Linked DNA regions of Homo sapiens. The protein of the gene in region 1 binds, or shares a complex with, the protein of each later gene. Links are inferred from orthologs where the notes say so. Each region holds a gene or a part of one and is shown in the gene's direction. Other genes may lie near its edges. The genes, in order: HMOX1 and POR.

Region 1 (16,002 bases):
TGAACCCGGGAGGCGGAGCTTGCAGTGAGCCGAAATCGCGCCACTGCAGTCCGGCCTGGGCGAAAGAGCAAGACTCCGCCTCAAAAAAAAAAAAAAAAAAAAACTTCAAAGGCTGAGGAACCCAAAGAGGCAGGACAAGTGAATGCAATGCAACCTCTTGGGCTGGAACCTGGACTGGTAAAACGGCTAAAGAGGAGGTTATTGGGGCAATAGGGGACATTTGAATATAGGCTTTATATTGAAGGAGTTCAGGATATGCCACCCAAAATGTGCCACTTTGGATTAAGGATCATTATTATTATTATTATTATTATTTTGAGACAGGGTCTCTGTCACCCAAGCTGCAGTGCAGTGGCACAATCTCGGCTCACTGCAACCTCTGCCTCCTAGGTTCAAGCGATTCTCGTGCCTCAGCCTCCCAAGTAGCTGCGATTACAGGTGTGTGCCACCACTCCCCATTCATTGATTAAGGATTATTTTGAGCTGGCCAGGCGTGGTGGCACATGCCTGTAATCCCAGCACTTGGGGAGGCCACTGTGGGGGGATTGCTTGAGCTCAGGAGTTCCAGACCAGCTTGGGCAACGTGGTGAAACCTTGTCTCTACAAAAAATACAAAATATAAAAAATTTGCCAGGCATGGTGGTGCATGTCTATAATCCCAGCTACTTGGGAGGCTGAGGCAGGAGGATTGCTTGAGCCCAGGAGATTGAGGTTGCAGACCACTACACTCCAGCCTGGGAAACAGAGTGAGACTCTGTCTCAAAAAAAAGGATTATTTTGGGATAAAGGCACTTTAAAAACAAACAAACAAAATCAGGTGCAAAAAGGTTGCTGTGGGTTGGGCATGGTCGCTCAGGCCTGTCATCCCAGCACTTTGGGAGGCAAAGGCAGGCAGACCACCTGAGGTCAGGAGTTCGAGACCAGCCTGACCAACTTGGAGAAACCTCATCTCTACTAAAAATACAAAATTATCCGGGCGTGGTGGCGCATGCCTGTAATCCCAGCTACTAGGGAGGCTGAGGTAGGAGAATTGCGTGAACCTGGGAGGCAGAGGTTGCAGTGAGCCTCTGACCTTCTTTTTTTCTTCCTGAAAGCAAGAGATGAAATTCCATATGGAAGACTTTTCTCTATACGAGGAGAAAATTAGCATTCCTTTCATCCATGGCAGGAAGTTGAAGCCAAAATAAATCTGTACAAACAAAGCTTGTTAAAGCCAGCTCTTCCTAGTCTCTTCTCTACCCAGTTAACCACCCTAACCCACACCCACGCCACTTTGCCTTGTCACGTTTTCACAGTTTACTACTCTGTGTCCAAATCTGCATGTAAGTGTTTGGCTCTGTTTCCTTGAGTCTTCTTTTCCTTAGGACGGCTCACGTGTTATGTAAATGTACGTTAAATAAATGTGTATGCTTTTCTCCTACTAATCTGTCTCATGTCAGTTTAATTCTCAGGCCCAGCAGAAAACTCTAAAAGGGTATAGGTAAAATTTTGCCTCCTCTACAATATAATGAATTTATATCGAAGCCAGATTTCCTGATTTTTATAACCATATGTCAGGGACTGCACTCCAGATATAATACATGCTAAATAATTTGGGGGTAGATAGGCATGGTGGCTCACACCTGTAATCCCAGCACTCTGAGACACCAAGGCAGAAGGACTGCCCCTGACGTCAGGAGTTGGAGTCCAGCCTGGGCAAAATAGCAAGACCCCATCTCTACTAAAAATGAAAAAAATTATCCAGGTGTGGCGGCATGAGCCTATAGTCCTAGATACTCAGGAGATGGAGGCAGGAGGAGATATATATATCTGTATATATTCAAAAATATATATGCATAGTATATCAAGAGAGAATACGATAAAGCAAATGTGACAAAATGCTAACAACTGGTGAATCTGGATGAAGGTGTATAGAAATTCTCTGTACTATGCTTGCGACTTTTCTGGACATTTGAAATTATTTCGGAGAAGTTTACTTTTTGAGGAAAAGGTAAATACAGGCCGAGCGCAGTGGCTCACGCCTGTAATCTCAGCACTTTGGGAGGCCAAGGCAGGTGGATCACCTAAGGTCAGGAGTTCGAGACCAGCCTGGCCAACATGGTGAAACCCTATCTCTACTAAAAATGTACAAATTAGCTGGGCATGGTGGTGCATGCCTGTAATCCCAACTACTCAGAGGCTGAGGGAGGAGAATCGCTTGAACCCAGGAGGCAGAGGTTGCAATGAGCCGAGATAGTGCCATTGCACTCCAGCCTGGGCAACAAGAGCGAAATTCCATCTAAAAAAAAAAAAGGTAAATATGAAGAACCTGAGATTCAAAACTCCTGACTGAAATCAAGGTTTGTTGGATGTTAGTGACCCCCGCCCTACTGCAGAATCATCCAGAAATTTCTAGATAGGAAAAAGGCTCTGGCTGAATCATGAAAGGGGAGCTGGATGCCTCTCTGACCAACATAACGGTTAACATTTACCGTGTGCCTCCTCTGCCAAGCCTCACTGTAAGCTTCTTACATGCATCAAACTGATTTCATGCTCACCACATCCCCTTGAGTCAATGCTGTTATTATTCCTCATTTTGTCAGATGAGGAAATAAAAGCTTAGGGTGTTCCAGTGTACACAGATGGGAAGTCATGGATCCTGGATTTGACTGCAGTCCTTTTGCCTAGAGTTTATTGCTTTAGCTAGTCTATACTATCCTAATGGTACCTTGATCAGGTTGAACCAGGGCATACCAGATCTGGGAGGTATAGTCAGGCTCCATTTTGGCAAGACTGGCCTGGTAGTCTGCATCCTTCAAAGGCTAGAATGCCTTCTTGTCTGGCTGTGGGTCTTCGGTCACTGGGTACGTGCTAATAGAGGCTGCACGATGTTTGGAAAAGATGTTGCCATTCTATGCCCTTTGCTGCCTCGGGCCCAGGGGCTCCTAGGGCAGCGATGCTGTGGAATCTGAGTGAGCCAGACACACTTGGCCTCAAATCCCGGGTGAGCTGTGTGATATTAGGCAGGGAATTTCACCCTGCTTGCTAAGCCTCGTTGATTAAATATGTAGTGAAAGCCTGGCTTGTGCTAAGGGCATAAGAAGGTGAATCTGACATGGCCCTTGCTGACTTCAAGGAGCTCACAGTCAGGACGGAGGTGGGGGCAACTGGGGCCCCTGGAGGGGTCCATAATGTGAGGAGAAGAGCTTCAGGAAAGCCTGTGTAGAATCTGTTTTACAGCTTCATGAAGATATAATTGGCATACAATAAACTGCACATATTTAAAGTATACAATTTGATGAATTTTGACACAACTTATAACCTGTGAAAGCATCTCCACAATCAAGATAAAGGGTGTATTCATCACTCTCAAGTTTCCTAGTACTCCTTGGTAATCCCCTCACTTCAACTAGGTAACCAGTGATCCAATTAGACTAGCTTGCATAATTTTCTAGAATTTTATATAATTCTATATACATTATGCGTATGTGTGTGTGTATTGCTTTGGCGAGCTCTTTTATTAGGAATGTTCATCTTTTGTCTGTTATATGTGTGGCAAACACTTCCTTCCAGTCTGTTGGTAGGGTTTCAACCTTATTTATGGGGTGTTTTGGCATCAGAAGGGTTCGGTGTTTTGCACTTCAGCCTATGGATTTTTTTCTTTTTCTTTTTTTTTTTTTTGAGATGGAGTCTTGCTCTTTCACCCAGGCTGGAATGCAGTGGTGCAATCTCAGCTCACTGCAACCTCCACCTCCCGGGTTCAAGCGATTCTCCTGCCTCAGCTCCCCCGAGTAGCTGGGATTACGGGCACCTGCCACTACGCCCGGCTAATTTTTGTATTTTTAGTAGAGATGGGGTTTCACCATGTTGGCCAGGCTGGTCTTGAACTCCTGACCTCAGGTGATCCACCCACCTCAGCTCCCAGAGTGCTAGGATTACAGGCGTGAGCCACCACAATTGGCCCAGTCTATGGATTTTTAAAAAATAACTTGGGCTTGTCTTCCTTGCTGAAGAAGGCTGTTTTCCAGCCTGTCACACAGCAGTTAGGCTGTAGACCCTCACTGGAGCCCCTGCCCTGCAGAATCGAGCACATGTTCTTTCTGGGTCTGTGTGGGGTGTGGGTGTGGTCAGGACACCGTCTGTGACCTTATTTACTGGGGACGTCCCCTGCTTGAGGAGAATATCCAGGCAAGGTCTCCTCACTCTCCTTAGCCACCATCCAGCTTGGCCAAGAGGCCTCCCCATGATTCCTCCCACGCCAGGGCCTCGCCTTTGTTTTTCACTGTTAGGGGCTGGCGAGTCACTGACCCGCCCCCCTCCCTGCTGCCCAAACCACTTCTGTTTCCTGAAGGCGCCTTGGGAATGCTGAGTCGCGATTTCCTCATCCCCTCGTGCAGCTGCATTTCTGCTGCGTCATGTTTGGGAGGGGGGACTCGCGGAAACAAAGGGAAGGCGGATTTTGCTAGATTTTGCTGAGTCACCAGTGCCTCCTCAGCTTCTCTTTAGGTGGGAGGTGAAAGGGCAGCTTTAATGGTAGGCAGGAGGAAGTGAAACTTCTAGAAAACGGCAGAAGCCTCTTGTTTGTCTTTTCTAAGTCTGTGCCTTTCCCCTGCTGGGTCCCCCAGCTCCCACCCTGTGAAGTCCACCTCAATCTGCCCCTGATTTAATGTTGCAATCCACCGAGGCCTTCTTATGCTTCACATCTCTCTGACTTCTGCATCTGCCTCATCTCTTCTGCCTCCAGCAGGAGAAAGTTCTCTACTTTTTTTGCCTGGATAATTATTGTATTTTTAGTAGAGATGGGGGTTTCACCATGTTGGTCAGGCTGGTCTTGAACTCCTGACCTCAGGTGATCAGCCCACCTCAGCCTCCCAAAGTGCTGGGATTATAGGTATGAGCCACCGTGCCCAGCCTCATCCTCCATCTTCAAAGCTAGCAGCATGGCATCTCCCAGTCTCTCTCTCTGTCCTCTGCTTTCTTTGTCACCTTCTGTATGTGCAACCATCCAGCCTCCCTCTTATAAGGCCCAAGAGGATAATCCAAGATAATTCCCCATCTCAACATCCTTGACTTAATCACTTCTGCAAGATCCTTTTGCTATGTAAGGTAGCAAAAAGGTAACCTATTCACAGGTTCTGGTGATTAGAATGTGGACACCTTTAAGGGGCTTTTATTTGGCCCAGCAGGAGGAGAGAGAATAGCATTTGGATCATCCTGTTGCTTGACTAAAAAGAAGGGGAAGTCAGGAGGCTGAATCAGCATGCGAAAGGGCCACAAATTCAGCCCTGGGACAGCCTAGAGGACCAGAACAACTCTGGCCTGGCCTCTTGCACCCCAGCAACCCACTGTGTGGGGGGCTGTTCTAACGAAGTCTGGGGCTCCCAGAGAACAGTTAGAAAAGAAAGCAAGCCCAGACCGGCAGCCAGGAACCCTGGGTCACTGGAGGTTCTCTTTCCAATGGGGGGCATAGCCTGGCCAAGTCCCTCCTGCTCTTGGGGTCCCTGCTTCCCTGTGTTAAATAAAAAGGGTTCAGATCTCATGAGTTTTACCCTCTAGGGTCGCTGAATGGACAGACTCTGGATCTATACACGCAAACTCATCTCCCCTAAACTCCTGGACCCTCTGTGAGAAGGGTTGGAGTGTGGTGGTCAGGACTGTGGGGACTGGCTTCAAAGTGCTGTAGTTTGAATCCTGGCTCTTCCATCATTAACTGTATGACTTGGGAAAATGACTTATCCTCTTTGTCCCTCAGTGCTCATGTGGGCAAAATAGAGATGAAAATAGCTTGCAAGGCTGTTGTCAGGATGGGCTGCAATCACGCGCGTGAAGTCTCTGCACATAGTAAATTCTCAATAAAGGCTGGTTAGAATGACAGTTTGGAATTGTGGCTTGGTTCCAGCCCATTCTATCAGCCCAGCAATATTACAGCCTAACAATATTATTATTTTTTCCCAGAAAGAGACCTTGAAGCATCTATTCATTCAGGCATGCATTCAGTATTAACTGTGACCTACCAGGCACTATTCCAGGAACTGGGAATTTACAAAGCAAAGTAGTAGGCAAGGTCTCCACCTTTGTGCTTTACATGCCACTGTTGGGGCTCAGAAAGTGATACCAGGACAACTGGTGCTTTGACATGATGAGAGGCCTTAGGAGCTGCCTCAGAGTCAAGGTCCCTGTAAGCTTGTCTTGTTCCCCCGACAAGCACAGGGAGAGACGCTCTCTGGAATTTCCTTATCTGACCAAGAACACTTCTTTACAAAAGAAATGCAATTGTGTTAAGTCTTTTTTTCCTTTGAGACAGAGTCTCGCTCTTGTCACCCAGGCTGGAGTGCAGTGGCACTATCTTGGCTCACTGCAACCTCCTCCTCCTCCCGGGTTCAAGCGATTCTCCTGCCTCAGCCTCCCAAAGTGCTGGGATTACAGGTGTGAGCCACCGCGCCCGGCCAGTGTTAAGCCCTTTTTCTAGTAATCTCATCAAATATCCAGGAAAGATCAACCACTGGAGAGAGAAAGAGACTGGGAGTCATCACCAGACCCAGACAGATTTACCTGTTCTTCTGAGGACAGTGCCAAGAGATTACCTGGGGGACTTTATCTGCCTAGGACAACCTTTGTCCCTGTGCGGCTCCACCTCCACCTTCCCTTAAAGTCGGCCTTTCACCTCCAGGGCCATTCCTTCTTGCTAATGATTTACTGTCTTTCAAAAGAATTGTCTGCATTCCCTATCTCCCTTCTCCCCTATAAAAAAGGCTGGGTAGCCTCTGTACTCCACTGGGTTACAGGGTCACCATTCTTCCGTGATTACCCCATTACAATACATTTTTGTATGTCTTTTCTCCTCTTAACCTGACTTTTGTCGGTTGGTTTTCGGGGAACCTTCAGAGGAAGAAGGGGAATTTTTTTCAAGGCCCCTTAGCTCACCCTTGGGAGGATGATCCTTTCCAATACAATCTCAGAAGTGCCTCTGGGCTGTAGTGGCCCTAGGCTGAATTCCAGGAAGTTTTTTTTTTTTTTTTTTGTTTTTTTTTTTTTTTGAGGGACAGCGTCTTGTTCTGTTGCCCAGGTTAGAATACAGTAGCGTGGTCACAGCTCACTCCAGCCTCTACATCCCAGGCTCAAGTGAACCTCCAGCCTCAGCCTCCCAAGTAGCTGGGACCACAGGCATGTGCCACCATGCCCAGCTAATTTATTTTATATTTTGTAGAGACAGGGTCTCCCTATGTTGCCCAGGCCAGTCTCGAACTCAAAGCAATCTTCCCACCTCGACTGGGCTCAAAGCGCTCTTCCCACCTCAACCTCCCAAAGTACTGGGACTACAGGTGTGAGCTACCATGCCAGGCCTGAAAGCCATCTTAAAAAAAAAATCTTAGAATGAGAATCACAGTATTGGGAAAGGACTGTATGAATCATCTGGTCCATTCGTTTTGTCCTCTGGGTTCACCCAGTGACCCTATTTCCCCCGAGTTCTAAGGAGTCCACCTCATGCAGAATTGATTCAATAGGCGATCAGCAAGGGCCAGCTCTGCTCTGGGCCCTGAGCAGGCACTGAGTATAAGTCAGACCTGAATGTGCCTGGAAGAGTGTCCCACGCATTCCAGCAGGGAAGCAGTTTGTATGACAGGTGTCCCAGTCCAGGCGGATACCAGGTGCTGCCAGAGTGTGGAGGAGGCAGGCGGGGACTTAGTCTCCTCCCTGGGTTTGGACACTGGCATCCTGCTTTATGTGTGACACCACTGCACCCCTCTGAGCCTCGGTTTCCCCATCTGTAAAATAGAAGCGATCTACCCTCACAGGTCAGTTGTAGGGATGAACCATGAAAATACTAGAGTCTCTGTTTTTTGACAGGAACTCAAAAAACAGATCCTAAATGTACATTTAAAGAGGGTGTGAGGAGGCAAGCAGTCAGCAGAGGATTCCAGCAGGTGACATTTTAGGGAGCTGGAGACAGCAGAGCCTGGGGTTGCTAAGTTCCTGATGTTGCCCACCAGGCTATTGCTCTGAGCAGCGCTGCCTCCCAGCTTTCTGGAACCTTCTGGGACGCCTGGGGTGCATCAAGTCCCAAGGGGACAGGGAGCAGAAGGGGGGGCTCTGGAAGGAGCAAAATCACACCCAGAGCCTGCAGCTTCTCAGATTTCCTTAAAGGTTTTGTGTGTGTGTGTGTGTGTGTGTGTGTGTGTATGTGTGTGTGTGTGTGTGTGTGTGTGTGTTTTCTCTAAAAGTCCTATGGCCAGACTTTGTTTCCCAAGGGTCATATGACTGCTCCTCTCCACCCCACACTGGCCCGGGGCGGGCTGGGCGCGGGCCCCTGCGGGTGTTGCAACGCCCGGCCAGAAAGTGGGCATCAGCTGTTCCGCCTGGCCCACGTGACCCGCCGAGCATAAATGTGACCGGCCGCGGCTCCGGCAGTCAACGCCTGCCTCCTCTCGAGCGTCCTCAGCGCAGCCGCCGCCCGCGGAGCCAGCACGAACGAGCCCAGCACCGGCCGGATGGAGCGTCCGCAACCCGACAGGCAAGCGCGGGGCGCGGGACGCGGGACGGGCGCCTTTCTCTCCCAACCCTGCTTGCGTCCTAGCCCCACCCCGGGACACTGCCACACAGCGACAGAGCCCAGGAGCCAGAAACTTGGGCTCTGGAGTCAGGAGGTGCGGGGTTCTGATCCTGCCTGTGCCCGTAGGGTAGTTGGAGGGAGGAACGGTAATTTACATGCCTGGCACCCTGGTATGCGGTTGGTGACCAAGATGGGAGTGTCCCTAGAGTATCCAGTCTTTGAGGTAGCCAATTTTTTTTTTAATCCTACTTTCGAGGTGTGTTTGGAGTTGCTCTCTGCTGAATCTAGATCTCTGGGGCTCTGCCAGCCTGGGGGAGCATGCTTGGTTCTCTTGGTGGCATCTGTCCCTCACTAGCTACGGAGGACCTGAGCCAGACATCACCCTGGCTGCGGTGTTCCATGTCTCACAGATAGCCCAGTTCAGGGAGGCGACATGCCCAAGAGTGCTCAGTTAGCTGGTGTCAGAACTGGGCCTTGAACCTTGGTCTGCCCACCTCCAGGTCTCACTCATTCCCTTCTTTCAATAATTTGTTAGTATTTTTTTTTTTAACTCCTGGGCTTAAGCATCCTCCCACCTCAGCCTCCAGAGTAGCTGGGACTTACAGACATGTGCCATTTCTCCTGAGACTTTGACCAGCTGTGTTGTAGAACAGGGAAGCAGGGCAGGAGAAAAGGGAAAAATGACAATTCTGTGGGGAGGCAGGGATACGGACCCATGACAGAAATACTCCCAGAAAGACTTTTTCTTTGACTAAAGCAGACTTTCTCAGGCTTTTTAACCCTGACGCCTTCATGATGAGCATAACATGATAGGGGGTCATGAGATTTGCATCTGGAACTTTAACAAAATAACTGAATTAAATATTGGGTCTAAAAGCCAATCAAAGCAATTACAAACTTGGAGATGCCGGTTCATGGGGCTGCTGCTTCTTCCTGGGTTATGCTGTACCTCCTCCTCCTCTCCACTGCGAACTACCTGTACCAGGATTTCCCCCTTGGTTTGGGGGACTGTATTATTTAGTGTTTTAATGACTGAAGAGTGTTTACAAAGCTGCGAGAGCCACCATGCCCAGCCTGAATTTGTTTTTTGTTTTTTGTTTTTTTGTTTTTTTGCTTTTTTGCTTTTCTTTTTTTGAGATGGAGTGTTGCTCTGTTGCCCAGGCTGGAGTGCAGTGGCGCGATCTCGGCTCACTGCAACCTCTGCCTCCTGGGTTCAAGCGATTCTCCTGCCTCAGCCTCCCAAGTAGTTGGGATTACAGGCGCCCACTACCATGCCCGGCTATTTTTTTTTTTTTTTTTGTATTTTTAGTAGAGATAGGGTTTCACCATGTTGGCCAGGCTGGGCTCAAACTCCTGGCCTCAGGTGATCTGCCCGCCTCAGCCTCCCAAAGTGCTAGGATTACAGGCGTGAGCCACCATGCCTGGCCCTTTTTTTCTTTTTTTTTCTTTTTTTGAGATGGAGTCTCTCTGTCACCAAGTCTGGAGTGCAGTGGTGTGATCTCAGCTCACTGCAACCTCTGCCTCCGGGATTCAAGCAATTACAGGCATAATTGCTGGGATTACAGGCACCTGCCACCATGCCCGGCTAATTTTTGTATTTTTAGTAGAGACGGGGTTTCACCATGTTTGCCAGGCTGGTCTCGAACTCCTGACCTCAGGTGATCCACCTGCCTTGGCCTCCCAAAGCGCTGGGATTACAGGCGTGAGCCACCGTGCCCAGCCACAAGGCTGCATCTTAAAGCGATTGAGAACGTGGCCTGAATGAGGATGGGAGTCTCTTGAAGGCCTGCCCACAGGTGGGAGGCTCAGCAGTTGGGAAGGACCCCACCCCCAGCCAGCTTTGTGTTCACCTTTCCCATTTCCTCCTCAGCATGCCCCAGGATTTGTCAGAGGCCCTGAAGGAGGCCACCAAGGAGGTGCACACCCAGGCAGAGAATGCTGAGTTCATGAGGAACTTTCAGAAGGGCCAGGTGACCCGAGACGGCTTCAAGGTATGTGGCTTGGTGGGACTAGCCCTGGTGGAGGGTGTGGCAGGTGTGGGTGGACCCAAGGCTCAGACCAGTGGTTTAAGTGGGGATGCTGAGGGACCAGATGGGCATGTCCAATAGAATCATCTTAAAAATGATGACACTGAGGCTCAGAGAGGGAAGGTGAGTTACCCAAGGTCACACAGCAAGTTCAGCCTGCTCTGTAATGTTGTGGAGGGGCTGGGGCAGCAGTGCCGTTGACTGAGCACCGGTTCCATGTTGGGCATTTTGTACACGTGGTTTCTAATCTGTGCTTCAACCCTGACGAGAAAGATGAGGACTGGAAGGCTCAGAGAGGTTCAGTGACTAACAGAAGGTCACACAGCCAGTAAGTGGAAAAGGCTGAAATCAACCAAGACCGATTTCAGCCTTGTACTCCTTGTATTTCAGAGCTTGTACTCCTGATCTAACTCGAATTTGCCTCTGAAGATAAGGAATAATATAGGTTGGAGTCTTAACAGAACCCTTTTCTAACAGTGAGACTGAGGGTGCCTCATCTAATCTCCCTAAGCCACGTTTTCCCCATCTGTAAAAGAGTATTTCAACAGCAGGGTTTTCTTAAGCACCCACTATATGCCAGGTACTGATTTTGCTGTTTCCCAGCACTGTTGTGAAATTCATGCAAATAGAAGGAAAGCACTTGATGAAGAACCGGGAAGATACTGGGTGTTAAAACATCAGCGTGGGGAAGAGCTTGTTCAGGTTGAACAGAGGGTGTGGGGGTGGGGAGTAGGGAGCTATATCCCACCACCTTCATCCCAGTCCCTTTTGCAATCTGCACCCTCTGCCACCCCCTACTTCCAACATGAGACATGCTTTATTTATTTTATTTTATCTGAGACAGAGTCTCACTCTGTTGTCCGGGCTGGAGTGCAATGGCAAGATCTCGGTGCCCTGAAACCTCCGCATCCTAAGTTCAAGCGATTCTCCTGCCTCAGCCTCCCAAGTAGCTGGGACTACAGGTGCCCACCACCACACCTGGCCAATTTTTGTATTTTTTTAGTAGAGACAGGGTTTTACCATGTTGGCCAGGCTGGTCTCGAACTCCTGACCTCAGATGATCCACCCGTCTTGGTCTCCCAAAGTGCTGGGATTAGAGGTGTGAGCCACCACCCGGCCGAGACATGCTTTAATGAGGAGAGATTTAATCTGTGGTTCCAGGCTGGGTGGGGTCCTTGGGCCTGTAATGGGTCTTCCTCATCCTCCTCCCCTCTCCCTTAAAAAGATGAGGTACACCCAGTTGCTGCAGTGTGACTGGAGACAGTGGGTGCAGGGAGGTGAATGCTGGAATATCCCATCCCCAGCCAGCTTAGACTTTGGATTTTGCCTCTAAGTCACAGGGTTCTAAGGAGGCGCCAAGATCCATGAGAGAATCCAGTGCTCACTTACATTAAGCTGGTGGACGTGGCACTTATCACAGCCCTTCTCATGTGAGCGCTAAGTGCCAGGCTGCCCTCTGTGCTGGCCCAGATCCTCTCACTTAATCCTCACACCAGCCCCATCTAGTATGTGGCAGGTGAGGGAACTGACTAGCACAGTTGGCTAGCACAGTCACACGGACCTCAGATCATCTGCTCTAGGATAGGATAGGAAGCTGGGACCAGAGAAAGCAAGTGGCTCACCCATGGTCACACAGTTAAGGACTGGCAGAGTTGGGTAAGAACCAGGTCCGTCACACTCAAAAACCCAGGCTCTTTTGTACCAGACTGCCTGGCTTTCTGTCCCCTCAAGGAATAGAGCTGCTTTGAATGTTTGTGGCTCAGAAATAACTCAGAAACTCCAACCTAAATGTCTTAACTTTGTTCTCCTTCAAATTTAAACGGGCGTATTAATGTGTAACGGGAGTTAGTGCCCCAAGCCAAGGTACACTCAAGACCTGTTGCCTCAGCCCAGCATGCAGAGGTGGTGGGGTTCAGAATAGGCCTCCAGGAAGGAGAATTGTGCCCTGTAGTTGGTTACGCAGAGGTCAAAAGCCAGAAGCACATGGCCAATCTCCTTTAAGCACTTTCATTTCAGCTGTTCCCCTCTCCTGAGCCATGGTGGGTCCCTGGCAATGCCCGGTCTTCAATCTAGTTTCATTTCTTACTAGCTGTGCAACCTCCATGTCTCATACCCTCTCTGAGCCTTAGTTTCCTTTTCTGTAAAATGGGAATAGCAATTCCTTTGTTGGATTTTTTTTTTTTTTTTTTCTGAGACAGGGTCTTGCTCACTCTGTTCCCCAAGCTGGAGTACAGTGATATGATCACAGCTCACTGCAACCTTGAAATCCTGGGCTCAAGTGATACCCCTGCCTCCGCCTCTGGAGTAGCTGGGACTATAGGCATGCACCCCCACAGCCATACCTGGCTTTTTTTTTTTTTTTTTTTTTTCTGAGTCAAAGTCTTGCTCTGTCGCCCAGGCTGGAGCGCAATGGCGTGATCTCGGCTCACTGCAACCACTGCCTCCTGGGTTCAAGCAATTCTCCTGACTCAGCCTCCCGAGTAGCTGGGATTATAGGTGCCTGCCACCATGCCTGGCCAATTTTTGTGTTTTTAGTAGAGATAGGGTTTCACCATATTGCCCAGGCTGGTCTCTTGGCCAGGCTGGTCTCGAACTCCTGATCTCGTGATCCGCCTGCCTCAGCCTCCCAAAGTGCTGGGATTACAGGCGTGAGCCACCGCGTCCAGCTGGCTAGTTTATTTATTTATTTATTTATTTTTATTTATTTTTTTGAGACAGAATTTCGCTGTGTTGCCCAGGCTGGAGTGCAGTGGCGAGATCTCAGCTCACTGCAAGCTCCACCTCCCGGGTTCACGCCATTCTCCTGCCTCAGCCTCCTGAGTAGCTGGAACTACAGGCGCCCGCCACCACGCCCGGCTAATTTTTTTGTATTTTTAATAGAGACGGGGTTTCACCTTGTTAGCCAGGATGGTCTTGATGTCCTGACCTTGTGATCCTCCCGCCTCGGCCTCCCAAAGTGCTGGGATTACAGGCGTGAGCCACCGCACCTGGCCCCAGCCAGCTAGTTTTTTAAAATAATTTTTTGTAGAGGTGGGTTTTGGGCTATGTTGCCCAGGCTGGTCTCAGACTCCTGGCTTTAAGCAATCCTCCAGCCTTAGCCTCCCAAAGTGCAGGGATTACAGGGGTTTGAGCCACCACACTGGGCCAGTTTGTTAGATCTTTATATAAGGATTCAATTAGGCTGCTTGTTTTGCCCAGTGGGGTAAAAGGTTTTTAGGCTGAGAAAGTGCATGATCGTCTTTTCCTCTTGTAAAAACCCCTCTGGCTGCTGTGTGAAGAGGATTGTAGCGAGGGGTGGCAGAAGGAGTCAGAGCCCAGCTGCGAAGTGAGGAGGGCCTTTCCAAAGGCAGTAGTGGACGGGACGGACAGAGGTGGGGGTCTTCTATGTGGCTGGCGGCCTGACCTGCTCACTCTGCTTTCAGCTGGTGATGGCCTCCCTGTACCACATCTATGTGGCCCTGGAGGAGGAGATTGAGCGCAACAAGGAGAGCCCAGTCTTCGCCCCTGTCTACTTCCCAGAAGAGCTGCACCGCAAGGCTGCCCTGGAGCAGGACCTGGCCTTCTGGTACGGGCCCCGCTGGCAGGAGGTCATCCCCTACACACCAGCCATGCAGCGCTATGTGAAGCGGCTCCACGAGGTGGGGCGCACAGAGCCCGAGCTGCTGGTGGCCCACGCCTACACCCGCTACCTGGGTGACCTGTCTGGGGGCCAGGTGCTCAAAAAGATTGCCCAGAAAGCCCTGGACCTGCCCAGCTCTGGCGAGGGCCTGGCCTTCTTCACCTTCCCCAACATTGCCAGTGCCACCAAGTTCAAGCAGCTCTACCGCTCCCGCATGAACTCCCTGGAGATGACTCCCGCAGTCAGGCAGAGGGTGATAGAAGAGGCCAAGACTGCGTTCCTGCTCAACATCCAGGTGAGGGTCGGGCAGCCTGGGGCAGCCTCTGCCTCCCCCCGTTGTTCCTCCAAGGGACCCTTCTCATTGTAGGGGAGGGTGCTATAGGTCATGGTTAACACAGGGAACCAGAGTTCCAGCACTGCCACTTACTAGCTGGGTGATCTTGGGCAAATGCCTTCATCTCTCTGTACCTCAGTTTCCCTATCTGTAAAATAGGGATAATAATGGTACCTATATCTTAGACTTATAAGGCTTGAGTGAATTTACAGCAGTAAAGTCCCCACAGCAGTGTCTGGCACAGAGGAAGCCCTCAAACATTCACTACTGTCATAATGGGACATGAGAATCAGTTGTAGCTCTCTGTGACAACAGTCTGTGGCAATGTATAAGTTGTGTGTGCACTAGTGTATAGCCAGGTTGGCACTCCCAGGGTTACAGGTGGCCTCTGCCTTCCAGGGACTCTCAGCCTAGCCAGAGAGGTTTACCTCTTTCTACAAGTGTCTCAAATCCAGGGGGAAGGTGGGGTTTGCGCAAAGCCTGGAAGGATGAATTCTTGGGCAGAGGTGGAGGGGTGAGGGGCTCCTTCTAACCAGATGTCATAGAGCCTTCTCTCTCTGCCACCCCCTGGAGGTGCCATGGGGCCTGGGGCTCGGGGTCATGCCCTCCTGGCTCCCTACTCCCAGCCGTGGATTGCAGAAGATTCTGGTCCTGGCCCCTGTTACGGAACAAGGCCTTTCCCTTCCACCCTCCCCCTTCAGAAAATCCAGTCCGTCTTGGAGGAAGAAAATCTGTGTCTTTCAGAGAAGTGTAGGCAAAAGAAAAGGGCCAGGTGCAGTGGCTCGCGCCTGTAATCCCAGCACTTTGGGAAGCCGAGGTGGGCGGATTGCTTGAGCTCAGGAGTTTCAGACCAGCCTGAGCAACATGGTGAGACCCTGTCTCTATCAAAAATAAAAAATAAAAAAAAATTTAAAGGAAAAAAATGTTTTTAAAAGAAAAGGGATTTGGAATCAGAACTGGCTCTCAGGCTCGTGCCTATAATACCAACACTTTGGGAGGCCAAAGCAGGAAAATGGCTTGAGCCCAGGAGTTTGAGACCAGCCCTGGCAACACAGTGAGACCCCATCTCTACAAAAACATGAAAAAATTAGCCAGACATAGTAGCGTGCACCTGTAGTCCCAGCTACTTGGGAGGCTGAGGTGGGAGGATTGCTTGAGCCCAGGAGGTCAAGGCTGCAGTAAGCCATGATTATGCTACTGCACTCCAGCCTGGGCAACGGCAACAGAGCAAGACTCTGTCTCAAAAACCAAAAAAACAAAAACAAAAACAAAAAAAAACGGCTCTTGGCTGGCCGGGCGTGGTGGGTCACGCCTGTAATTCCAGCACTTTGGGAGGCCGAGGCGGGTGGATCACGAAGTCAGGAGATCGAGACCATCCTGACTAACACGGTGAAACCCCATCTCTACTAAAAAAAAGAAAATACAAAAAAAATTAGCTGGGCATGGTGGTGGGCACCTGTAGTCCCAGCTACTCAGGAGGCTGAGGCAGGAG
Region 2 (14,858 bases), on another chromosome or scaffold:
CCTCGGCCCCGATGGGCATGTAATCAAGTCTAGCAGACGGCTGGCGTCACCGCATAGAGGATGTCCCGGTGGCCAGGAGAGGGAACGCAGCCCGGCTCGCTTGGGAGTCATTCTTGCCTAACCAAAGCCCTGAAGCAGCTCTGCTGTTGCTGGGACAGTTTGTTTCCTTGAATCTTTACTTTTTGAACAAACCAAAGTCTAAGAACAGACCCTCCCTCTAACTCACGAAGCTTCTCCCGTCTGGCCCTGGCCTGTCCAGGAGCAGAGGTAAATCTCACAGAGCTGCGGTCGTGGCACCACTGCCATTTTCTCTCCGCTTTGTTTTTGTTACTTTTTTTTTTTTGAGATGGAATCTCGCTCTGTCACCCAGGCTGGAGTGCAGTGGCGCAATCTCGGTTCACTGCAAGCTCCACCTCCCGGGTTCAAGCCATTCTCGTGCCTCAGCCTCCCGAGTAGCTGGGATTACAGGTGCGTGCCACCACGCCCAGCTAATTTTTGTATTTTTAATAGAGATGGGATTTCACCATGTTGGCCAGACTGGTCTTGAACTCCTGACCTCAGGTGATCCGCCCGCCTCAGCCTCCCAAAGTGCTGGGATTACAGGCGTGAACCACCGCACCCAGCCAATTTAACTATTTAATTGTAGGCATCAGTACTACATTTACATAGTTAAAATAAAAACATCCACTATTCAGTGGAAAGCTCCCCTCTGCCACCCACTCATCCCCACTGTTCTTATTATTTATGGATCCTTCTAGAGTTCCTGTATGAACATACAAGTAAAACAAACAGAGACTCTTATTTTTAATTTAAAAAAACCTTTATTTTATTTTAGAGACAGGGTCTCACTGTGTTGCCCAGGCTGGAGTGCAGCGGCGCCATCATAGCTCACTGCAGCCTCAAACTCCTAGACTCAAGCCATCCTCCTACCACAGCCTCCCAAGTAGCTGGGACTACAGGTGCACACCACCACGCCTGGCTAATTTTTTAATTTATTCTTCATAGGAACAGGTTCTCGCTATGTTGCCCAGGCTGGTCTTGAACTCCTGGCCTCAAGCAATCCTTCTGCCTCCGCCTCCCAAAGTGCTGGGACTGTAGGTGCGAGCCATTGCATCCAGCCTACACTTTTCTTAAAACACAAAACGTGGCATACTATGTGCACTGTTCCAGACCTTGCTTTTTTTTTTTTTTTTTTTTTTTTTGAGACAGAGTCTCGCTCTGTCGCCCAGGCTGGAGTGCAATGGCACGGTCTTGGCTCACTGCAACCTTCACCTCCTCGGTTCAAGTGATTCTCCCGCATCAGCCTCCGGAGTAGTTGGGGTTAGACGCCTGCCACCGTGCCTGGCTAATTTTTGTATTTTTAGTAGAGACGGGGTTTCACCATGTTGACCAGGCTGGTCTCAAACTGCTGACCTCGTGATCCATCTGCCTCGGTCTCCCAAAGTGCTGGGATTACAGGCGTGAGCCACTGCGCCCGGCTGACCTTGCTTTAAAAAAAAAAGAACACAAAACAACTTGATATGTCTCAAAGATCCTTCCATATCAATACAAAGATACTGCCATCATCTTAGCTGTACCATGATTCCATTATATGGCCATCTGGATTCACTGTAACGCACTTAACCCTGTCCTATTAAAGATGGGCACTGGGGCTGTTGCTACTCTTTGGCTCTTACCAACAATGTCACTGTGAATATGTAGCTCGGTTTGCACATTTCAAATACAAAGCAGTCCCAGAAGTGGAATTGCTGGATTGGAAGGTAGATGTGTTTGCAATCGTGATAGAAGCTACAAATCGTCCCCGTAGGAGTCACACCGTGGCACGCGCTCAAGAATAGCGACGTGTGAGAAAACTGTTCCCCACAGCCTTGCCAACAGTTTGTTATTAAAGTTTAGATTTTTGTCAGTTTTCTAGGCTTAAAAAAAAAACTCAGTATAGTTGTAATTTACATTTTTATGAATGAGATTCAGTAGATTTTCACCCACCTAGGTCTAGATGGCTTCGTTTCTTTTTCTTTTTTCTTTTCTTTTTTTTTTTTTTTTTTTTGAGACAGGGTCTCGCTTTGTTGCCCAGGCTGGAGTGCAGTGGTGTGATCTCAGCTCACTGCAATCTCCACCTCCCGGGTTCAAGCAATTCTCATGCCTCATTCTCCTGAGTAGCTGGGATTACAGGTGCGTGCTACCATGCCTGGCTAACTTTTGTATTTTCAGTAGAGACAGGGTTTTGCCATGTTGGCCAGGCTGGTCTCGAACTCCTGACCTCAGGTCATCCACTCAACTTGGCCTCCCAAAGTTCTGGAATTACAGGCCTGAACCACCGCACCCAGCCTCTTTTTTCTTTTTTTAATAGATTCTCTCTTCACATCTTTTGCCTGCTTTTCTGTTGGGATTGATCTTTCTCCTTGAAATTATTAGGGAGATGAATCTCTTGTCTGTGATATAAGTTGAAAATATCTTGCCCGTTAAAGAGTTTGTCTTTTAGTGAGATTCCATCTCTTAAAAAAAAGTTTGTCTTTCAACCTAGCTGATCGCATTTTTATTTGTTTTGCTGTGTAAAAGTTACAGAGTCACCTATATGATTCTTTCTTTTCGTGACTTCTGGTCTTAGAGTCATAATTTGAAGGTCTTCCCCATGCTAAAGAGATAAAGATATTCCTGTATTTTTTTTTTCTAGTACTTTTAGGGTTTTGTTTTTCATATTCAAAATTTAAAATCTGATCTATTGGGAATTTATCCTGATGTAAGATGTGAGGTATGAATCCAACTCTACATTTTACATAGCTGTCTAAACACCATGTATTAGAGTCCATCTTTCCCCCACTGGTTTGAAATGCCACCTTTATCATATACTTAATTCCTGGGCTGGGCGCAGTGGCTCATGCCTGTAATCCCAACACTTTGGGAGGCCGAGATGGGCAGGTCGCTTGAGCCCAGGAGTTTGAGACCAGCCTGGGCAACATGGCGAAACCCCATCTCCACAAAAAATAGAAAAATTAGTGGGACACAGTGGTGCGCACCTATAGTCCCCGCTACCTGAGAGGCTGAAGTGGGAGGATAGCTTGAGCTTGGGAGGCACAGATTGCAGTGACCACTGGACTCAAACCTGGGCAACAGCTACACCCTGTGTCAAATAATAATAATAATAGCTGGGTCTCTGGGTTCTTTTCACTGGGCGCAACGTGTTCAAGGTTCACCCACACTGTAGCATATGTTAGTACTTCCTTTTTATTGCCAAATAATGTTTTAATATATGGATTCTTACTTATTTTTCCGTGACTTTTAGGATCAATTTGTTGAGGAAAAAAAAGCTGTTCAGATTTTTTTTTTTTTTTTTGGTAGAGACTGGGTCTCACTCTGTTGCCCAGGCTGTTCTCAAACTCCTGGGCTTAAGCAGTCCTCCTGGTGTGGCCTCCCAGGGTACTGGGATTACAGGTGTGAGCCACTGCACCCAGCTGGTTCAGATTTCTATTACATCATGCCACATTTCTCTAGTGACATAAATAGAGCTGCCATTTTTGTGGGTCGAGACTCCCTGTCCATAATCGGGGTGCTTTTCCATTGGCGTGAGTCCTTTGTGTGTAGTTCAGTAGCTTCTGACACATCTCTTACAAAGTTTATTTCTAGGTATTTTATATATTTTGATGCTCCTGTAAATATTTAGCTGCTATCTTAGGTCATCTTTTGTTCTCTTAACCTGATAATCATGAGCACTTTCTCTTCTATTAAGTATTTTTACGGTGATTATTTTAAAATATCCTTTTGGGCGAAAACCCTGTCTCTACTAAAAATACAAAAATTAGCCGGGCGTGGTGGCATGCACCTGTAGTCCCAGGTACTCGGGAGGCTGATGCAGGAGAATCACTTGAACCCGGGAGGCGGAGGTTGCATTGAGCCAAGATCGCACCACTGCACTCCAGCCTGGCCAACAGAGCAAGATTCCATCTAAAAAAAAAAAAAATCCTTTTGGCCGGGTGCAGTGGCTCATGTCTGTAATCCCAGCACTTTGGGAGGCTGAGACGGGCGGATCACCTGAGGTCAGGAGCTTTGAGACCAGCTGGACCAACATGGTGAAACCCTGTCTCTACTAAAAACACAAAAAATTAGCCAGGCATGGTGACGGACACCTGTAATCCCAGCTATTCAGGAGGCTGAGGCAGGAAAATCGCTTGAACCCAGGAGGCAGAGGTTTCAGTGAGCCGAGATCGCACCACTGCACTCCAGCCTAGGCGACAAGAGCAAAACTCTGTCTCAAGAAAAAAAAAAACAATTTTTAATGATTTAACAATGATTTGTGGAAAATTCAGGAACTTTAAAAAGTATAAGAACATTTATTGTAATCCCTAAGTTTTTTTTGGTGGTGGTTTTGTTTTGAGACTCAGTCTCACTCCTGTCACCCAGGCTGGAGTGCAGTGGCTCAATCACAGCTCACTTCAGCCTCAACCTCCCAGGCTCAAGTGATCCTCCCACCTCAGCCTCCCAAGTAGCTAGAACCATAGGCATGCGCCACCACACCCAGATAAATTTTTTGTATTTTTAGTAGAGACAGGGTTTTGCCATGTTGCCCAGGCTGGTCTCAAACTCCTGGGCTCAAGTCATCCTCTTACCTCGGCCTCCCAAAGTACTAGGATTACAGAAGTGAGCCACGGCACCCGGCCGCGTAAGTTTTATTTTGTATGAGGTGGGATTCAGTGTGAAAACTAGAGACTACTTTAGGCATTTTAATCTGGAAGGGATTTCACACAGGGAAGGGGGTACTTCCAGGTTACTGGAGGGGCTGAAGGAGCAGGTTGGTCTCTAAGATATCACAGAAGCAACCTGCAAGGTAGCTGCTCTGTTCGAATGCAGCCTGAAACTGTTGAGTTCAGGACACACCACGTGTAGCTGTGATCCAGGATAAGAAGCTACTTCTACAGCTGCCTCTGAACATCACATAAGCCAGTAGCCAGGACTAGGAACTTGCAGTCTGGCTACCAAAACTATTAGAAATACCTCAGGTGGCTGGGTGCGGTGGCTCACGCCCGTAATCCCAGCACTTTGGGAGGCCAAGGTGGGCAGATCACCTGAGGTCAGGAGTTCGAGACCAGCCTGGCCAACGTGTTGAAACCCAGTCTCTACTAAAAATTCAAAAAAATTAGCCTAGCATAGTGGTGGGTGCCTGTAATCCCAGCTACTCAGGAGGCTGAGGCACGAGAATTGCTTGAACCCAGGAGGCAGAGGTTGCAGTGAACTGAGATCGTGCCATTACACTCCAATCTGGGCGTCAGAGCGAGACTCCGTCTCACACACAAAAATAAAAAAAAGAAAAGAAAAAAAGAAAAATGCCTTAGGCACTGAAGACCAGGCACTGCAGAGAACCTCACATGTGCATGAGGGGCCAGGAAGCCTTGGCCTCCCTTCCACCCTTCAGATCTTGCAAAGCACGTTCAATTGGCTGAACCGAATTGGCTGCAACTCCAGCCCCAACGGGCTCTGGGGAATAGGATTTCAGGCTTTTCAACAGCTGCTGGAGGAGGAGGGTGGACTGACGAGTATGTGAGCCAGCCCCTAGGACCTTTCCCTGTTGTAAAATTTTATAATGAATATGTATTTAACCAGCAAAACACATCCAGAATGCCCCATTTAGGGACCCTCGGTATATTTCTTGCCAGTCTGTTTTCTTTGTGCCTGTGGGTATAGAAAGAAAATACATATGTATGTTTTGATATACATATCTATTATTTATATAACACAATTGGATTGTATAGCCAGCCCTGCATATCCGTGAGTTCGGAGTTCAAGAATTCAACTGCAGACTGAAAATATTTGGAGAAAAAATGGATTGTTGTGTCTGTCCTGAACACATACTGTCATCTTACTGTTCCCTAAACAATACAGCATAGCAACTATTTACAGAGAATTTACATTACATTAAGTATTACATTAATAAGTAATCTAGAGATGATTTAAAGTATGTTGGAGGATGTGTGTAGGCTACACACAAATACCACATCATTTTATAGCAGGGACTTGAGCATCCTTGGATTTTTGTTTTTTGGGTTTTTTTGTGATGGAGTTTTGCTCTTGTAGCCCAGGCTGGAGTGCAATGGCGCGATCTCGGCTCACCACAACCTCTGCCTCCCAGGTCCAAGCGATTCTCCTGCCTCAGCCTCCCAAGTAGCTGGGATTACAGGCATGTGCCACCATGCCCGGCTAATTTTGTATTTTTAGTAGAGACAGGGTTTTCTCCATATTGGTCAGGCTGGTCTTGAACTCTCGACCTCAAGTCATCCACCCGCCTTGGCCTCCCAAAGTGCTGGGATTATAGGCGTGAGCCACTGGAGGTGGAGTCTTGCTCTGTCACCCAGGCTGGAGTGCAGTGGCGTGTTCTCAGTTCACTGCAACCTCCACCTCCTGGGTTCAAGCTGTTTTCCTGCCTCAGCCTCCCTAGTAACTGGGATTACAGGTGCACGCCACCATGCCCGGCTAATTTTTGTAGTTTTAGTAGAGATGGAGTTTCACCATGTTGGTCAGGCTGGTCTTGAACTCCTGACCTCAGGTAATCTGCCAGCCTCAGCCTCCCAAAGTGCTGGGATCACAGGTGTGAGCCACCACGCCCGGCTGCATCCTTGGATGTAAGTATCTATGGGAGGTCCTGGAACCATTCCCCCACGGATAGGGGCTATACATTTGGTTACTTTTTTTAACTTTGTTTTTTCCCCGTGTCATGAAAATGTCAGAAGTGTGATCTTGAGCAGCCGCGTGTGTGAGATTGCCTTGGTGACCTTTGCCCTCCTTTGCCACAGTGGCTGTGACAGTGAGAAGCAAGTCCCAGAGGAACTTAGAAGGGACTCAAAGCCAGGAAGGAAAGGGGGCGGCCTGGAGGGCCCCCGCCTGCCAGGCCTGCCCAGTGGGTGTTCACCGGAGCCGTGGCTGAGGTCTGTGGCCCTCACCAACCCTGTGTCTGCCTTCCTTAGGGGAGGAACATCATCGTGTTCTACGGCTCCCAGACGGGGACTGCAGAGGAGTTTGCCAACCGCCTGTCCAAGGACGCCCACCGCTACGGGATGCGAGGCATGTCAGCGGACCCTGAGGAGTATGACCTGGTAAGCTGCCACCGCGTGCTGGCCCCAGATGGAGGCAGTGGGTAGGACAGGGAGCAGGTCTGTAGGGCGCCCCTCAGCAGGGGGAGGCCGGCAGGGAGTGGGGTCCTGGGAAGACGTCCTCGGAAGTTGCCTTCCCGTGAGGGTCATTGCCATCCCTGCCCGGGCTGACTGACGGAAGGGCCATTCCTGCAGTTGCAGCCACGTGCCAGGCATCGTTTCCCCAGGACTGGCCCTCCCCTGAGTGCCGGCTGCCCTCCTGGCGGCCGCCACATCTCCCAAACCAAACCCACCCTCCCCAGCTGCTCCACTCCCCTCTCCTTCGAGGTCTTGGTGACGGGCACTACCCCACAGCCCTCTCCAGGCTGCATTTGCAGTTGATGAACAGTTTAGTTAGATATCAGTGTGCACCGGGGCTGTGCGGTGCCTGGGAGCTTTGGAATGAGGTTCCCAGGGTGGCCCCAGACCTGCATCAGCTCAGGAGGCTGCATTCTGATGGCTCTTTTGTGCCAAGCTTCACTTTCCTCTAGAAACACATCCTCTCCGCTCCAGCCTAACACGGGTGACCTTGTCCTGCCCACCTGGCACAAATGCCCATGCCCCAGCCCCTCCGTGTTGTTACTTCTCTCTGATCCCACGACACTCAGACATCCCTGGCCTGGTGCCACCCTGGGCAGGACCTGGCCTTCCCCATCTGGTGCGGGTTGAACCTTGAACAGGCTCAGTCATGGCCGGGGCGCGGTCCTGTCCCTGTTTCTGCAGGCCGACCTGAGCAGCCTGCCAGAGATCGACAACGCCCTGGTGGTTTTCTGCATGGCCACCTACGGTGAGGGAGACCCCACCGACAATGCCCAGGACTTCTACGACTGGCTGCAGGAGACAGACGTGGATCTCTCTGGGGTCAAGTTCGCGGTGAGTCACCCAGAGACTGCTATGGGCTCCCGGTGGCCTGCGGTGCCTCCCTGGGGACTCCAGATCCATGTATCTGAAAGGCAGCCCTCCAGACCCCCACCCTGTCCTCAGCAGCCAGGGCAGGCCACTTGTGAGACCCTCTCCTCTGCCCCAGACCCCAGCACTACGAGAATGTCCCCTCCCTGTCCCCAGCCCCAGTCGGCTCCAGGGGGCATTGGGTGCTGGAGACTAAAGGCAAGAAAGGTCTGGCTGGACGACTGAGACCTGCCTGGCCTCGGAGAGCTGGAGCCCCAGCCCGGTGGGGAGGGTGGGCTGGCCCCGCTTCCCTGTGGGTTGAGGCTGGCAGTGGACGGGGCAGGCTGTGGGCTGCAGGTCAACCAGATGAAGCCTCTTCAGTGGCCCAGTGTTCCTTGCAGTGCGAGGCGCCTGGTGGAACGGAGGCCTGCAGGTGTTGCCAGCAGCTCAGCCAGTGCTGTGGGGCCTCCCGCCCTGCCCCCATGGCCCCTCCCACTGGTCAGGTCGAGGGCCAGGCCTCAGAGCGGCCCCTGTGTCCACGCAGGTGTTTGGTCTTGGGAACAAGACCTACGAGCACTTCAATGCCATGGGCAAGTACGTGGACAAGCGGCTGGAGCAGCTCGGCGCCCAGCGCATCTTTGAGCTGGGGTTGGGCGACGACGATGGGAAGTGAGTGCCCACCCTGCCACCATGATCAGCGCGGCGGGCTTAGGCAGGGGCCGTGGAACGTGAGGGGCGCGCACACCATTGTGTCAGCTGAGACTCAGCGACACGCACCTCCAACACAGAGGGAAGGGGCTCTCCTGCCTCTGCCCTGCCCCTGCCAGTTTTGCTTTTCGGCTTGCCCAACTCCCTGGAGCCTTCCTGATGCTCTGGGTTTATGTCGCTGGGTGCCCCAGGGTGCACAGTCCTGAGCTTTGGGGATGGGGTGGGGTCGGGGCGTGCCTGGCACCAGGTACCGTTGCCACATGGGCCTCCCCTGAGCCGCTCCCCCTCTCCTCTCCTCGGCCCAGCTTGGAGGAGGACTTCATCACCTGGCGAGAGCAGTTCTGGCCGGCCGTGTGTGAACACTTTGGGGTGGAAGCCACTGGCGAGGAGTCCAGGTGAGCAAGTGCCCGCAGGTGCGGTGGGTGGCCTGGGCGGGTCCTGTGCCGAGGGCAGCCACCCTGGAACAAGGGCTGGCAGTGGGTCGCAGCAAGGTTAGAAGACACTCCGTCATAGGGTCGAGGAGGGACCTTGGTCCCAGCCAAGGACTCACTCTGCCACGTTGCTCTGCACTGCCCTGGGGCAGCGGGGTGCATCCCACCTCTCGACAAGGACACATCGCGTCGGGCTCTGTGGCTAGGTTCAACTTTGGCAAAAGGGCTCATTTCCTTAAAATCTGCCTCCACAGACTTGGCCAAAAACATAACGTTCCTCTCTGTGCCCTTGATGGCCCCTGGGTGCTGCCCGGGCTTCCTTACCTTCTCCCAGATGGAAGCCTGCCCAGCCCTGCCCCGGCTTCTGGGCGTCTGGCCCCCGGCAGCTCCACGCCGCCTCCCTCCTTGCTCCCTCGCCTGCCCTCCTTGTGCATCTGCAGCAGGGGCTCCCCTGCTTCTTGTCGTATGTACCTGGGACCTCACCCCAAAGGCCATGCACGGTCTCCCCTGTAGTCCAACCCCTCCCTCTCGGGACTGACCCCTGCCGCTTCCCGGCCTCACCCTTGGTCTCCCCTTTCCAGCATTCGCCAGTACGAGCTTGTGGTCCACACCGACATAGATGCGGCCAAGGTGTACATGGGGGAGATGGGCCGGCTGAAGAGCTACGAGAACCAGAAGCCGTGAGTGGAGGGAGCGTGGCTTGGGGCAGACGGCTCTATGGCCACTGGTGCACCCCAGGCTCAGTCTGCCGTGTATCCCCATATCCCCACAGGGCCCTTCTCACCAGACCCCGTGCCCCGAGTGGGTGTGAGTGTCCACGACCTGTCCACGGCCCGGCCCCAGGAGACTGGCACTCGCCCAGTTTGTACTGAGCTCACTTAGCCACCTTACTCTGCACTGCCCAGGGCAGCGGGGCACATCCCACTTCTCGACTAGGACAGTGCATTGGCCTCTGTGGCTAGGATCCTCTTTGGCAGAAGGGCTCATTTTCTTAGAATCTATCTCCATAGATAGACTTGGGGGAGAAACCTGGCGTTCCTCTCTGTGCCCTTGATGGCCCCTGGTTGCTGCCCAGATTCCTGCCCGAGCCACCCAGGGAAGTCCTCGTGCCACTGCATCCAAGACCAGCTGCCCTGCTTTCTGTAGGCCTGCCCCAGCCTGGCTGGAGCGAGAAGCCCTGCATGTCGGTGGCTTTCCGGAGTGCAAGTTTCTCTCTTGTCCACGGTGTAGTCCAGGACGTGTGGGGGTGGGGGAGCTGTGCTCCTCATTTGGGGACCAGCCACCTTCCAGCCTGTGGCACCGTCAGCTTGGGCCTCACAGTTCTTTTAGGGGCCAGCCTCAGTTTCCACATCTGTAAACAGACACTGATGACCCAGCTCTGCCCATGTGGTGGGACTATAGAGAGAACTGCATTAGGGCTGGGCGAGGTGGCTCACAGCTCTAATCCCAGCACTCTGGGAGGCCGAGGTGGGTGAATCACCTGAGGTCAGGAGTTCAAGACCAGCCTGGCCAACATGGTGAAACCCCGTCTCTAGTAAAAATATAAAAGTTAACCAGGCATGGTGGCGAATGCCTGTAATTCCAGCTGCTCAGGAGGCTGAGGCAGGAGAATTGCTTGAACCTGGGAGGCAGAGGTTGCAGTGAGCCGAGATCGCGCCGCTGCACTCCAGCCTGGGTGGCAGAGCGAAACTCTGTCTCAAAAAAAAAAAAGAGAACTGCATTGGACCAGGCTGGGAGAGCCCTTGATGTAACCGGTGAGATTTCCTCATGGAGATCTCTGAGATTCCCTGTGCTTTGTGCAACCAGAAGCGTCCTTGGAGACGGAGACTCAGATCAAAGCCCCGGCCGCTCACTGTGCTTCTCTCCTCCCCACCCAGCCCCTTTGATGCCAAGAATCCGTTCCTGGCTGCAGTCACCACCAACCGGAAGCTGAACCAGGGAACCGAGCGCCACCTCATGCACCTGGAATTGGACATCTCGGACTCCAAAATCAGGTACCAGCTGCCACTGTCACCCCCTGAACCCTCACTCTGGGCCTCCTGACCTGGGGCAGGGCCAGCCTTCCGCCCCTCCCGAGCCTCACATCTCCCTCCAGGTATGAATCTGGGGACCACGTGGCTGTGTACCCAGCCAACGACTCTGCTCTCGTCAACCAGCTGGGCAAAATCCTGGGTGCCGACCTGGACGTCGTCATGTCCCTGAACAACCTGGATGGTGAGTGCCACAGTCAGGGCGCCCTGCCGGGCTCAGGCAGCCGCGGGATTGGGCCTGTAGGAAGGCCCTGGGTTGAGCTTCTGCTTAGGCCTGAAGCCCCGGTGCCTGGGAGGCCCTTGCACCGAGACTCCACGGTTACAGGATCCCAAGCAAACGGGAGGCGGGGTGGCCCTAGGGGTCTAGCCCTCTCTGTCGGGGTTCCCCCTACCCCGTCACTGTCATAGTCCTTTAAGGGAGTGAGGTGCTGAGGCCTGGTGGCAGAGGCAGCCCTGGCTCCCCCATGGCCACTGTGTCCTGCTGGGAAGGAGGGCCTGGCTCCACGACCCACCTCTGCCGGCCTGGGGCTGCCCCCACCTCCTCACTGAAGTCAGGAGTCAGCAGCCCTCCCAGGCCCCCAAGGGTGCACAGTGGTGCCGAGTGGCAGTAGCCATTACGCGGGGCTGCCTGGGCCTGGTGGGGCTGCCCAGCCTGAGCCTCCCGCTGTGAAGCCCTCGGACCCCACTGGTCACCAACCTGGGCCGAGCCCACCTCGCCCCACCCCTGCTTGCCGGTCCTCAGCTGCCATGCCAGGGCTGCCCTTACTGTCGGCTTCCACAGCCCGCCTGTAGGGAAGCCTGGGCGGGGCTGTGTCAGACCGTGTAGTGTGCGGTGAAAGCACAGCGGGTGCGTTAGTGTGCAGGGGCTCCCCCGCACCTCCCCTAGCAGGGTCCTGCCTCTGATGAGGACTTCCTGTCTGGTTGGAGGCCCCAGACTTGGCCCCAGGGCCAGGGAGGCATCAGAGAGCATAGGCCTTGTTTCCAGCACCAGCTGGGGCACCTGTTGCCGCAGAGCTGGCCCAAGGTGTCACCCCCTCCTGCCGCAGCCACCCATCCCCAGGAGGCGGCCGCCTACCCCAAGTCCTGCCTGTCTCTTCCCTGCAGAGGAGTCCAACAAGAAGCACCCATTCCCGTGCCCTACGTCCTACCGCACGGCCCTCACCTACTACCTGGACATCACCAACCCGCCGCGTACCAACGTGCTGTACGAGCTGGCGCAGTACGCCTCGGAGCCCTCGGAGCAGGAGCTGCTGCGCAAGATGGCCTCCTCCTCCGGCGAGGGCAAGGTGCGCCCCCTCAGCCCCCGCAACCTCCGCCCCGTCACCCCGCCGTTTTCCGAGCTCCGTGGGCCCCAATCAGCCCCATCTCACCCCCGTGTCTCTTAGGAGCTGTACCTGAGCTGGGTGGTGGAGGCCCGGAGGCACATCCTGGCCATCCTGCAGGACTGCCCGTCCCTGCGGCCCCCCATCGACCACCTGTGTGAGCTGCTGCCGCGCCTGCAGGCCCGCTACTACTCCATCGCCTCATCCTCCAAGGTGAGGGCCGGCACTGCCCTGCCAGCCACACGCTGGAGGCCCAGCCCTGCTCACAGCAGGCAGAGTGCAAGGCGGCACAGGAGCTCCGAGATCTGAGCCCTGAGCTCCAGTTCCAGCCCCAGCGCAGCTCCAAATGCCTCCCCAGGCTGTGGACTCAGTCGGGCTGGCTTGTGAGATTCTCAGCATCTGTCCAGCCCCGGTCCCCAGAACCAGTCCGGGAAGCCGCTGGGGAGGGGGCCTCTGAGGTTTGGGTGCCAGGTGGGCTGGAAGAGGCCCTGGGTGAGTGGGGCTGGCCTGCAGAACGGGACTTGGGGCCGGGGCTGGGCAAGGGCCTCGGTGTGGCGGTGGAGCTCACACGGCCCTCCCCACAGGTCCACCCCAACTCTGTGCACATCTGTGCGGTGGTTGTGGAGTACGAGACCAAGGCTGGCCGCATCAACAAGGGCGTGGCCACCAACTGGCTGCGGGCCAAGGAGCCTGCCGGGGAGAACGGCGGCCGTGCGCTGGTGCCCATGTTCGTGCGCAAGTCCCAGTTCCGCCTGCCCTTCAAGGCCACCACGCCTGTCATCATGGTGGGCCCCGGCACCGGGGTGGCACCCTTCATAGGCTTCATCCAGGAGCGGGCCTGGCTGCGACAGCAGGGTGAGTGGGGTCCCATGGGGGAGAGGGGGTGACGACTGGGAGCCCCGCGCTCACCCCGGCCCCTGCCACGCAGGCAAGGAGGTGGGGGAGACGCTGCTGTACTACGGCTGCCGCCGCTCGGATGAGGACTACCTGTACCGGGAGGAGCTGGCGCAGTTCCACAGGGACGGTGCGCTCACCCAGCTCAACGTGGCCTTCTCCCGGGAGCAGTCCCACAAGGTGAGACGGGCGGGCACCCACGAAGGTGGGCATGAGGCTGGCAGGGCCACAGCCACAGTGCCCCCCTCACAGCACCACCCTTGGCCCCAGGTCTACGTCCAGCACCTGCTAAAGCAAGACCGAGAGCACCTGTGGAAGTTGATCGAAGGCGGTGCCCACATCTACGTCTGTGGGTGAGTGAGTGGGGTCACTGGAATAGGGGGCAGGGAGGACAAGGCCCTGCCTGCCACAGTTGGCCCAGCCCCCAGCACCCCCTCTTCCTGCCCAGGGATGCACGGAACATGGCCAGGGATGTGCAGAACACCTTCTACGACATCGTGGCTGAGCTCGGGGCCATGGAGCACGCGCAGGCGGTGGACTACATCAAGAAACTGATGACCAAGGGCCGCTACTCCCTGGACGTGTGGAGCTAGGGGCCTGCCTGCCCCACCCACCCCACAGACTCCGGCCTGTAATCAGCTCTCCTGGCTCCCTCCCGTAGTCTCCTGGGTGTGTTTGGCTTGGCCTTGGCATGGGCGCAGGCCCAGTGACAAAGACTCCTCTGGGCCTGGGGTGCATCCTCCTCAGCCCCCAGGCCAGGTGAGGTCCACCGGCCCCTGGCAGCACAGCCCAGGGCCTGCATGGGGGCACCGGGCTCCATGCCTCTGGAGGCCTCTGGCCCTCGGTGGCTGCACAGAAGGGCTCTTTCTCTCTGCTGAGCTGGGCCCAGCCCCTCCACGTGATTTCCAGTGAGTGTAAATAATTTTAAATAACCTCTGGCCCTTGGAATAAAGTTCTGTTTTCTGTATTTGCCTGGTATTGTGTGAGTAGATCTGGGACCTCCACCTGCATCAACTTAACTAACTCAGACCCCAGGAACCCATGTGGTGGGGCCACCCAGCCCTCCCCTCCCCCAGGAGAACACACACGCTCAGGCCACCTCTGGGCCTCTCTTTATTGAGGGCACTGGGCCCAGGTCTTCCTTCAGGGCCCACAGCGCCCATAAAACCCAAGGGAGAATAGAAGAGACCCCCTGATACACGCACACTCGAGGGGCGCCTCCCATCCCCTCCCACAACACACAGGACAGAAGCCCCTCTGGGCCGGCAGGGGAAGGCCCAGCCTCAATCCTTCTTGCTCCCGTGCCGCTGACTGTGAAACTTGTGGTGCACAACCCTCAGGGTGGTGAAGAAATTGCCGAGGAAAAGGAGGAGGAAGGGAAAGCCGCACATAAGCACCTGCCGGAGGAATAGGGTGAGGGCTGGACATGGGCCTGGCCCCCCATCCATCCTGTCCAGGGACCCCGGC

What was found.
Region 2: the proteins of HMOX1 (region 1) and POR are in contact, whole or in part, in a crystal structure (PDB 3WKT), measured with the Rattus norvegicus proteins. The link is inferred for Homo sapiens from one-to-one orthologs. Residues at the interface, in NP_036712.1 of Rattus norvegicus: Asp12, Ser14, Glu15, Gln38, Ala75, Pro76, Glu81, Lys149, Ile150, Lys153, Ser171, Asp173, Asn174, Thr176, Lys177, Phe178, Lys179, Gln180, Leu181, Arg183, Ala184, Arg185, Asn187, Thr188; in NP_113764.1 of Rattus norvegicus: Thr88, Thr177, Asp208, Asp209, Arg313, Arg514, Lys515, Gln517, Arg519, Leu520, Phe522, Lys523, His626, Lys665, Met667, Thr668, Lys669, Gly670, Tyr672.

What each region holds. Positions count from the first base shown.
Region 1 is NC_000022.11:35,372,706-35,388,707, forward strand, and holds the start of HMOX1 (heme oxygenase 1), read left to right. Parts: upstream 1-8,390; 5' UTR 8,391-8,468; coding exon 8,469-8,491; intron 8,492-10,400; coding exon 10,401-10,521; intron 10,522-13,979; coding exon 13,980-14,471; intron 14,472-16,002.
Region 2 is NC_000007.14:75,972,498-75,987,355, forward strand, and holds the end of POR (NADPH--cytochrome P450 reductase), read left to right. Parts: intron 1-6,953; coding exon 6,954-7,082; intron 7,083-7,841; coding exon 7,842-7,991; intron 7,992-8,550; coding exon 8,551-8,675; intron 8,676-9,019; coding exon 9,020-9,109; intron 9,110-9,726; coding exon 9,727-9,825; intron 9,826-11,022; coding exon 11,023-11,139; intron 11,140-11,240; coding exon 11,241-11,359; intron 11,360-12,279; coding exon 12,280-12,461; intron 12,462-12,560; coding exon 12,561-12,710; intron 12,711-13,081; coding exon 13,082-13,352; intron 13,353-13,425; coding exon 13,426-13,571; intron 13,572-13,661; coding exon 13,662-13,744; intron 13,745-13,839; coding exon 13,840-13,984; 3' UTR 13,985-14,358; downstream 14,359-14,858. Other genes in the region: TMEM120A (transmembrane protein 120A), read right to left, coding at 14,535-14,726. UniProt on the Homo sapiens protein: This enzyme is required for electron transfer from NADP to cytochrome P450 in microsomes. It can also provide electron transfer to heme oxygenase and cytochrome B5.